Regions from separate parts of the Homo sapiens genome. Here region 1 is linked to region 2. The links come from fine-mapping of genetic effects on gene expression. A gene starts in region 2. The other region holds a variant in brackets. All regions are shown on one strand. Distances are from middle to middle.

Region 1 (5,252 bases), 42 kb before region 2:
TGGTGGAGACCTCAGAAATGGTCTGCAACACAGGCACTAGGTCAGTTTCCCGCCCTTAGCTGAATGCAGATGGATGCTGGGAGATGGATATGGTGAGATGGTGTGGGGAGGATGTTAGAAAGCTGGAGGTGTTTATCACTTCTCAAGGAGCTCTGAATATAGGGGGAAAAAAACAACAAAAAGACAAGCCCAGGGAGAAAGCACCATTAAGGATATACCTATGCCAGCTTCTATAGCTGCACCTGCTTTATTGGCAGGTCACTTGCCACAATTGCATCTGCCCTCTAAACTTTTTAATTTTCACACTGTATCCTAGACATGAATGCATAAAATACAGTGTCTGGCGGGATAATGCAGAGAGGTACCATCTTGATTTTCCCCAGTTACATTCACCTGGTCTGGTCTCTGTAAGCTTAGAAGAGTAGAATCACTTTATTTTTTAAAGACTTCCGGCCAGGCACGGTGGTTCACGCCTGTAATGCCAGCACTTTGGGAGGCCGAGGCGGGTGGACCACCTGAGGTCAGGAGTTCAAGACCAGCCTGGCCGACATGGCGAAACCCTGTCTCTACTAAAAAAAAAAATACAAAAAGATTAGCTGGGTGTGGTGGTGTGTGCCTATAATCCCAGCTACTCAGGAGGCTGAGGCAGGAGAATTCTTTTAACCCAAGAGGCGGAGGTTGCAGTGAGCCAAGATCACACCACTGCACTCCAGCCTGGGCGACAGAATGAGACTCTGTCTCAAAAAAAAAAAAAAAAAAAAAAAAAAATTTTTTTTCCAAGTACAAGATGTTACCACTGACAAAAGGGTCTCATATGAATGATGGAGGTTTCTGTTACCGTATGCCCATAAAGGGGCCTGAAACCAAATATGATTTGAATAGAAAAGACCTTGGGAAACATAAGTAGCACTTTGGGGCTAAGCTGCGAAGGCACTCGTATTGTACAAGTAATTTCGAAGAGAGCCTAAATTTGCTACCCCCCTGCTTCTACAGGGTATACCAGATTTTTGCTGTCTTGGGACACTGAGCTCATGGAAGCCTGTGGAGGAAACTAACCGGTAAGCTGGGGATCTAGGTAGTCATCCAAGAGTCTGGAGGGAGAAGAAATTTGTTACTTCCACAGCTGGGGTCCTGTAGAACCATACTAATGTACAAATGGATGCTGAAAAATACCTGCATAGTTTCAAAACAAAACTCCCTCTCCACTCCCAGTTACTGACATGATGCTTCTTGGCTATCTCATAAGGAGTAGCAGTATGAATACTTTCTGGCTCCTTCCTAATACGTTGACCTGTCATACGCGCATTCACTTAGAATTTCTTTTGCACAACTAAAGTTGAATAAGATCAGAAAAATAGCTGAGCCCCGCTATGGGACTGGAAGTGAAGGGGCCTCCAGAACCTCCTGGCCCTTTCACTTCACCCATGCCAAATATGGCTTCTTCAAGCCAGAATCCAGGCCCCATAAACCAAACTAGAATTCTGGCCTCTTGCCAACTCTTCCCTCAGGCAAAGCACAGCCAGAGAAGGGGCAGCAAGAACTGCCTTAATCTCCCTTGCTCTGTGTGGGTCTGGTGACACCCTCCACCTTCCCACGCTCTTTCAGTGTTGCTATCATTCCTATCAGCAAGAGCTTCCAGAGCAACCAGGTGAGGGACCTTAGGGCCTTGGGAATTTAGGGGGTGGGGATAGGGGATGTCAAGATGCCTCGTTTTGGGATAAATGCACTCGGGCCTCTGAAAAGCAGGAGGCCCCTGGTCCCTGAGAGGATGTTAAAAATTAAATACTAAGAATAAATAAATAGCTCCCAAATGACACGAGTCAAGGAATGAAGGCTCCTGTCCAATCGAGTTAGGAGACCTCTCCCTCCCAGGGAAGGATCCAGAAATCTCCAAAGTGCAGGCCTGGGGGCTGGGTTGTGGATATCGACACTGGGTAGGGTGCGGTGGGGTTAGGTGTAGCTGCTGAGGTCAGAGCAGAGGCAAGGAGGCTGGCCCCAGGAGGGGCAGGCTGAGCCTCTCCGGGACCTGCTCAAGGCGAAGCGCCCTTGGCAGCCTCCAGGACCCAAAGGTATTCAGCCAAAAAGGTGGGAAGCAGGAAGAGCCAGGCTTGTCAAAAGCTCTCTCGGGCCTAACCCTGCAGCTTCCAGCCTCCGTACAGCTCCCTTCCCTGCAGCAGGATGAGTGCTTTGGACAAGAACGCTAGCCCCTCCCCCAACGCTGAGAAAACTTTCTAGCCCTAGCAAGGCCGCCAGCAAGCAGCAAAGGGAGAGT[A/G]CCTGCCGCGGCCTCCCTCCCAAGGAGGAGGTGGCCACTCAGGACACGGTCACGGGAGCAGCTCAGACAGGCCTAGAGACTGCAGGGACAGCACAGGTGTCAGGCTGCGCCCCTTCTCAGAGAAGCCCGCAGACTCCCTCCAAGAGTTTCTTTTTCTGGGGCTTGGGGCAGGGCCGTTGCAGCCTTCGAGGTCCTCTGGGGAGGAGAAATGCTGCTCCAAAGTGGGTGAGCTTGTGCTTGGCCGGCCACGGTGGCTTCCTGGAGGCCGAGGGGAGGAGGGGGAAGCAAATAAAGGGAAAAGACTGCGGGGCAGCAGAGCAGCAGAAATCGGAGTGTGAGAGGCGGTGGAGTCCCTCCCGAGGGGACCGGGACTCTCCCGGTCCAGGAAAGCACGAGGACAGCTTCCGACAGACCAAATGCAAAGAGAGCTGGATCCTGGAGCCCTTAACGCTGCTCCCAGGGCCTTCATAAATAAAAGAGCCGTTTATGTCATTGTCTCATTTGTTTCGCAGGGAAAAGTCCCTGCAATCCTCTCCTCACTCCCTCTTGAGATGCCAGGGTGTCTGCGGGCGCTGGCGGCGGTGCGGGAAGGGCCGAGGCCCAGGACTGGGCCAGCCTGGCTCCCGCGCTCAGCCCTTGTCGCCCGCACCGCTCTCCTCCCGCAGGGCCTGCTGGTGGGCGGCGGCGGCGGCAGCAGCGGCCTCTTTCTCCTTCAGCCTCAGCGCTGCAGCCTTCTTCTCCTGCTCTGCGTGGCTCTTCATATGCGCACTGCGGCTCTTCACCTTGTAAAACACCCTGCAGCCGGGTGGGGGTTGCTCAGAACCGGCCTAGCCCACCCGGGGGCCCCCAGCGCGGGTGCGCGAGGAGCCCCAGCCTTCACCTTCACCCCCACGCTGCACAGCCGCGGCCGGCCAGCTCGCGTCATTTTCCGAAAGCTGCCCCATGACGTCACAGCCCTAGAAACCCGCTGAGCCAACCAGAAACGAGGCGGACACCGCCTGTACCTCTTCCCCCTCCCCTCCACCCCACCCCCGCCCCCTCCGCGCACCAGCCCGCGGGGGTCCCAGCGGGGACAGCGCTGCCCACCTTACCTGCCACATTTTTTACAGGGGAAAGTGTTCTCCTGATTCTGGGTCTTACTGAATGTCTCTGTTTTTTTCTTCTTCTCTGAAAAAGGTAGTGCCCTTCGTGACTTCCCTGTCCCTTCCCTTGGCTTCTCCGAGGCCTGGCCACCGGCAGACCCAGGGGCGTTGGACTCGTGGCTCCGGAGGATGAGGATGTCACTGGCCTGAAGAAAATCAAACAAGGAGAGTTGAGTGATCTGAGCAAGCGCAGATCTGGAATTCTAAAATCGCAGGGAACCGGGGGCCTGAAAAGTCATATATATTCCTGCCAAACAGTCACCTAGCATGCACTTGGGTCCTTCCAGGGATATGACGACCATTGCCTCCTCCAACTCTGCATCTCTGGTCAGCTCTATCGTTTACAAAGTTGCTGCTAGAGTAATTCTGTGGGGCAGCCCGAGCTGCTAGAGGCCTTGATGCGCCTGACAGGGGATCTTGGTCTCTGGGTTAATGAAGCACCTACCTGTTGATGTTTTCTGTCATTTAGTCCGCTCATGCCCTGTTCTATAAATGAGATTCAGGCCCCTGTGATGGGCCAGATGCTAGGGACAAAGAGGTTGACACAGGCATCCCTGCCCTCAGAGCTGAGGATCTGGTGGAAGGGACAGATGCGCAGGTAGCTACTTCAGGACAGCGCACTGCAGGGACACCAAACAGGGCAAGGGCAGGGGTCAGAGTGCAGAGCAGAGGGAGCAGAGGTGACCTCGGCTGGGGAAGCCCCGGGTGGCCATCAGAAGTGGCACCCTCATGGGAAAGTTCACAAAAGTCAACAGAACTCTGTAGAGCGCTACACAGAGCACAGCTCTTGGTGCAGGTGGTCGAGGCTCAGAAGTGGGCACACAGCCGTGTGTTTACAGTTTATGGGAGCTCTGTAAGCATGAGTGTACTACACACATTCCTTTTTTTTTTTTTTTTTTTTGAGATGGAGTCTTGCTATGTCACCCAGGCTGGAGTGCAGTGGCATGATCTTGGCTCACTGCAACCTCCGCCTCCTCCACCTCCTGGGTTCAAGTGATTCTCCTGCCTCAGCCTCTGGAGTAGCTGGGATTACAGGCGTGCACCACCATGCCCAGCTAGTTTTTGTATTTTTAATAGAGATGAGGTTTCACCTTGTTGGCCAGGCTGGTCTCGACTCCTGACCTCAGGTGATCCACTCACCTTGGCCTCCCAAAGTGCTGGGATTACAGGTGTGAGCCACTGCGCCCGGCCTACTACATACATTTCTAAAAAAAAAGACTCTAAAAAAGCAGCAGCTCCCCAATAAACCCCTTCCCCTCCTTACCCCTTTCTGGGAGAACTCTCCCTGGCAAGGAGCAACTATGGCCAGTAGTCTTGTTTCTTGGCCTGTGATATGGTGGACAGAGCACTGCACTAGGAGTCCAAGGACCTGGGGCAAGTCACTTAGCATCTCTGAACTGCTTTCCCCCATCTGCAGAGTAGAGGTTAACTCTGCAGTGTGAGGAACTAATGAGATAATGGAAATGAAAGCACTTTGCAGAGATCATGCCTGAGGGCCTATGATTGTCATTCCCATGGTCTCAGCTCAGTCTCATTCTTGTCAGGGACTCTGGCTCTCTTAGGGGAGCCCTGTCTGCAAACCACCAATGCTCCCTCAGTGACCCACATACCTACTGGGTTTTCACAAAACCTTTTTCCCTCTGAATCTCAGATACAGAAGCAGTAGAGTATAAAAATTAATCGCAGACTCTGGATTCAGGCTGCCTACTAGCTGTGTTATCTTGGGCCACAATTTCCCCATCTATAAAATGGGAATAACAGTAATACCTAACCACATAGGGTAGTGAGGATTAAATGAGTTAACAGCACAAAGTACTTCACACATTTCCTGCTATTAT
Region 2 (5,470 bases):
GCTGGCAAGCTGTATGACCTGGGGGCATCCTCCAGGTTCTTCACCCCCTTGTCCCCCCGGGAGCTACACGGACCAGAGTAACCAGCCAGAGGCCAATCCAATTAGAGTGGAGACTGGACCAGGGCCATGCAACGAGATGGTTTATCACAGTAATTGAATGTTTACGCTCCTATTATTCACTGTCCAGAGCAGTTGGAAAAGGAAGACCTACGAATTCTCAACCCGGGAAGGCTTCTCCTTTTCCCTGGGTTCTGAAGCCACTTAACACCCAAGGAAAGGGTGCATTTCTCTGATCCAAAAGGGGCGTGTGCCACACCTTTGGTGGGAGGCTCTAGAGCAAGACAGGTGGTTTCTCCCCTCAGCTGAGGCCCCCTAGGGAGGACTGGCTTCTCGGTCCACCTTCACTAGGCCTTCAGTCTCAACCCTGAAGCTACAGGAACAAGAAGATCCCAGATCACCTGGCCAGGCTCCCCCTGCTGGAGCAAGCCAGACATCCCCTCCCTCCCCCAGCCGCAGCTGCCAACAGGGATCCCCTGCATACGCGGGCCACCGGGGCCTCCGTGGCCAGCCTCTCTTCCCCCATCCCACCGCCCCCCGCGCGAGGCTCCACAGGCTGGCACACAGGTCCCACGTGGGATGGTGGAAACAGGAAGCAGCCACCGTAGTTGTGACCAACAAAGTTTTAAATGGGGCATATAACTTCCCCTTTCATCTTCTCACCAGCTCTCGCTGGAGGCTGGGCTGGGACGGACACCCGGCCTCCACTTTCTGTGGCAGGTACCTCCTCCATGTCGGCCCGCCTTGGGGCTGAAGCCTGAAGGCCCCAGGGCACACGAAGTTCCCCTTCCTCCCCTAGACCTTTACCCAGAGGCCTTGGGGGCAACCTGACACACATGGTCCTGCATGTGCGACTTGGGAGGCGACGTGACCAGCTCCACCAAGCCGGCCATATGCAGGGCCCGGCCGAATCCCGGGTTTCGGCGCTGCCGCCAGGCACCAGGGAACACAGCTCCCCGCGAGGCACCGCGCGGGCTGGGAGGGCTGCGGCGGCGCGGGCGTGCGGGGGCGCGCGGGAGGATGACAGGTCTGAGGTGCGCCCGCCCGCGCGAAGCGCTCCAGCCTAGGCCTCTGCTGACTGCATTTGCCCCAGTTCCCCAACGCCCCTGCACCTCTGTCCCCCAAACTCCTGGCGTGGACGCCGCGTCCAGGCCCACTTTCCCGTGCACGCTGGCAGGGGAAGGGGCTCCCGCGCCAAGTTCCCTCAGCTGGCTAGCCCCTCGCCGCGCCTTCCGGGCCTGGGCTCCGTCACGTCAGCCGGTCCCCACGGACACCACGTTTCTCTCCAGCGGAGGAGGAGCAGCCGGATTCCCGAGCCGCCGCGGGCCGCCGGGTGGGGAGGGCTTTCCTGGCGGGGCCGCGCCCGGGTGGGCGGGGGCCGCGCGCAAGCTGCGTAGCTGCACAAACACCGCGGGGCTGCGCTGCACACGCAGCTGCGGGCCGAGGGCGCGGACCGCGGGGGAGGGGGCGGCGGGCTGCAGGCGGCCCCCGCACGGCCACACGCGCCCGCTCCACCGCCGCCCAGGCCGCAGAAGTTCGAGCGCAGCGGCCCCCGCGGCCCCCTCTCCGGGCCGCGCCTGCAGAGCTGCAACCCGCCGTGCGAGCAGCCACAGCTCGCGCGCCGCCTGGGGTCCCCTCGCCGGCCCCGCCGCGTGCAGGCCTCGGCCGCCGGCCAGGCAGCCCCACTTACCCAGCTCTTGCCCGGGCTCCGGGCTCCGGGCTCGGCTGTCCCCCTTCCGCCGCGGGTCGCCGCCTTCGGTCGCCTCCGGGACTCCAGCCGCCTGCACGCACTCCCGATTTTAAAAACAAACAGGCGCCGTCGCCTCCCCGCGGCGCTCGCGGGGCTTCCGCCAGCCCGCGCCTCCCGAGGCTGAGAAGTTTGCTGGCAGGGCCCGGGCGGGACGCGCGGGCTGTCACCCCCCGCTTGCGATGCAGGAGCCTCGGCGCGCCCCGCACCCGTGCCGTCCGCCTCGCGAGCGCTCTGCCTCCCTCCGTGTCACCCCCAGTCCTGCGATGCAGTGTCAGGATTGCACGGCTCTGACTCATCGGTTGAGCTCACAGCTTGAAAAAAAAAAAAAGAGAGAGGGCGAGAGGCAACAGCGGAGGAGGAGGACTCTGGCGTGCTACAAAGGATTGCACAACTCGAGGCTGGGAGCGCGGAGCGCCCAGCGGCCGGCCGGCGCGCGCGGCACCGCGGCGAGCAGGAACCAGCTCTACCACTTCATCAGCACAACTGTCTCGGGGCGGCCTCAGCCAGCAGGCCCGGCGCCGCCCACTTCCTGCGACCAAATAAGGCCGGGGAAGGCGTCCTTAAACCTCAGGCGGCGGCCGGGGCTGGGGATTTCCAGCAGACCTCACCTCCACTCACGAGTCGGTCGCCGTCCCCATCCCCCGCCCAGGCTGGCGCCCCCGATGGCTTTGCTGGCGGGCCACGCTGCTAGTTCCTTTCACACCAAGGTCAGGAGGAGACGGTGACGAAATGTTTGGAAACCCATTGAGCCTGCCAGGAAAGTGTGTGTGTGATGCTGGGGAAGGCACAAGTCGCTTTCTTCCACAAAGAAACTCTCTCTGGTTTTGGATACGGTAAATCATGCACAATCCTCTCCATGGCATTTTATTAACAGACTCTCCGAGTTTCACTTTCTGGCTCAAAAGCGTCCTGGTGCGTGTAAAGGTTATTGAGAAACTGGCCTCAGTCCCTAGAAAGGACCCACCATCTCCATCGCTTAGGTGAGGAAAATCTCCTGGATTTAAATCTAGCAACTCAGGCCAGAGTTGAGCGGCTTTTCACTCCATACTCACATTTTCCCCTGTCTTCCCTAAATATCCCCCTGATCAATTCTCAGGTCCAGGCCTTGATGCCTCCTTGCCTGACTGGTGGGAAGATGGAAAACATTTTTGCAGCTCAAGAGGTTGGTTCTGGCCCCCACATTCAATGGGGCTCTAGGGCCAGGGGAAAGTTCAGGGGAGTGTGTCCTATTCTTCCTTCCAAGTTTTTTGGTGGTGGTGCAGTGGTGGTGGTGGCGGCGGCGGTGGTGGCGGTGGCTGTTTTTCAAGGAGATGGGTCACAAGGAGATTTTCCTTTGAAAGAAAAACCACCGAAGAATACCATGTGTCCTGGCAGCCACTTTTCAAAACACTGTGGCCAGACCTGAGAACCAGGTGCATCCCTCACTTTCTCAGGGAGAAGAGGAGGGAGGGGCAGCAGAATATGATTCTCACACACTCACTGGGCCTACAGGGCCAGGGTGGGGTGTGGAGGACACAGGCAAAACTTGGATCTTCTGCCCAGAAATCCTGCCAAACCTGCACTTGCTTCTAAGGGGGCATGGCTTTCCTGTCCTCTTCCACCTCTTTGCTGGCTGGAGCACCTGCGTACATGTACACCTGGAAGTCACACCTCCCCAAGAGGAGAAGGGCTTATTTGCACCATGTTATGATAGATATGTCAAAATAAGGAACACTTAAAACAATCTTATCTACAAAATACAGGTAATTATGCCACAGGACTGGACCAGAGGACCTCTTGAGATCCCTTCCAGTTCAAGATCCATGATTCTGTGATTACAGTAAGTGAATAGAGGAGCTAGGGAAACCACCTTCTACAAAAAAAAGCCCGGGCTCCCCGATTTAGCATCTGTGATGACAGTATTGTTCCTGGCAGCTCTCAGAGCACTTCTCCATACAGTCTCCTGAAGAGCCCTGCATGTGAGTTTTATCTCTCTCAATCTGTGGATGTACTGAGGTTCAGAGAGGTTAAGTGAATTGCACCAGGTCACAGGGCAAGCCAAGCATCTGTGACCTCTCTGCTCCTCCCCCAGAGGAAGGCAGTGAGCAATTGAGGAACTGCAGTGCTCAGGCCTGCAGACCCCCAAGCAGAGGCCAGACTCTCAGGGCTCCTGGCAAAGGATCAGGGTAGAGCCTTTTTACTTTTTTCATTTGCCTGATTTCTTCCCTCCCACTGACAACACATCCAAGTGAGGGAAGCAAAAGCAAAGCCATTTGGTCTCCAGTGCCCACTGCTGCCAAGTTCCTCTGCAGACCTGTGGCCATCCTCACCTCCCCTGAGAGCCCAGCCCCTGCAGTTGGCCTTAGGCCAGCCCAGAGTGAGCCCCTAAGAGCTTGTGCAGACCAGCCCAGGGATGTTCCCAACCAACCAGAAAACCTGACTGGGAAGCACATTGCTAGAAGAGCCTGCCATCATGGAGCCAGGGCCCAGCCTTCAGGGAACAGGTGAAAGCCACTCCAAAGGAGTGGCCCAGGAAGCAGCATACATAGTGGAGGCAGGTGGCAGGGGAAACAGAGAAGTCAGTGGCCCTGAAGGAGCCTTGCTCACCTTGGAGCGGCACCGCCCTTCACTACAGCTAAACTTCCAAATTCAGGCCACCTAAGAAAGGAGAGAGAAGAAAAGGGGCACACATGTGTGCAGGGGAGGAGGGCTCAAGACTATACCAAATAGCCCCCCCTTGGCAGGAGAAGTCTACCTCAAAAAGGCGGGCAGATGAGGCTATGTAAAGAAAGCTGCAGCGCTTCCGGGAAAGCCCTGGAGGTCAGTTTTGCTGCAGATATGACGGTGCAGAATCACTGACGTGTGAAGTGAAAGTTTTGGTTTTAGAAGCTCCAGCCCCTGCTACAAGTCTCTGGGGCAACCAAGAAGGTTGACCTTTCAGGGAAATGGGGAGGTGTTCCAGAGACCTTATCCACAGAGTTGGATTTTCTCCACCCTCAACCCTCTTTACAAACTGCACGAAAAAGGAGTACAGAGCTCCAGTTACCAGGGAGTGTGACAAGAGAGAAACACTCCAGGAAATAAAGCACCCTAGACAGAATCCTAAACTCTGATTCCCAATAAAGGTAGAATATGGCAAATTTGAGAGGCTTCCTAGGGCCACATCAGCTCTCTGGACTCCACTCAGAGCGGTCTGTCACTGCCCTGTGTTTCATCAGCAGTATCTAGACCATTAAAATCTTCCAAGGATGAGGCCAGGCACAGTGGTTCACACCTGTAACCCCAGAACTTTAGAAGGCTGAGGCAGGAGGAGTGCTTGAGCGCAGGAGTTTAGAGACCAGCCTAGGCAACGTGGCAAAACCCAGTCTCTACAAAAAAATACAAAAATTAGCCAGGTGTGGTGGCACATGCCTGTGGTCCCAGCTACTCAAGAGGCTGAGGTAGGAGGATTGCTTGAGCCCATGAGGTCAAGGCTGCAGTGAGTTGTGTTCACGCCACTGCACTCCATCCTGGGTGACAGGGTGAGACGTTGTCTCAAGAAAAAAGAAAATCTTCCAAGGGTGAATTTTATGGTGTGTGAAGTATATCTCAATAAAGCTGTTACGAAGTTGGGGGAAAGCTTCCAAGGAAGCCAGGTTCTCACCTCCCAGCCACCTTCCTCCAATAAGTCTGCAGCCATCATCA

Which allele goes with the higher level. Alleles are on the strand shown, and positions count from the first base shown. SD is a standard deviation of normalised expression in the study named.
In carriers of allele A in region 1, the expression in cerebellum of the gene that starts at base 2,288 in region 2 tends to be higher than with G alone (large effect, 0.91 SD a copy in GTEx).

What was found.
Region 1: its variant is fine-mapped to the expression of MIDEAS in cerebellum (GTEx, PIP above 0.99). The same link has a PIP of 0.9 or more in cerebellar hemisphere.

The regions. Positions count from the first base shown.
Region 1 is chr14:73,715,942-73,721,193 of GRCh38, forward strand. It overlaps MIDEAS (mitotic deacetylase associated SANT domain protein), which reads right to left. Exons shown (of 13, transcript NM_001367710.1): 12 at 3,364-3,560; 13 at 1-3,067. The coding sequence ends at 2,902. Among named protein-coding and RNA genes, the nearest start is that of PNMA1, 4.2 kb to the left of the region's middle. RefSeq lists an enhancer at 2,874-3,484. The variant A/G (reference allele first, on the strand shown) is at 2,273.
Region 2 is chr14:73,758,016-73,763,485 of GRCh38, forward strand. It overlaps MIDEAS (mitotic deacetylase associated SANT domain protein), which reads right to left and starts at 2,288. Exons shown (of 13, transcript NM_001367710.1): 1 at 1,748-2,288. MIR4505 (microRNA 4505) reads left to right here and starts at 732; the gene lies at 732-804. RefSeq lists enhancers at 256-305, 2,366-2,695, 3,611-4,133, 4,134-4,655, 4,257-4,556 and silencers at 956-1,065, 1,426-1,575, 1,706-1,945.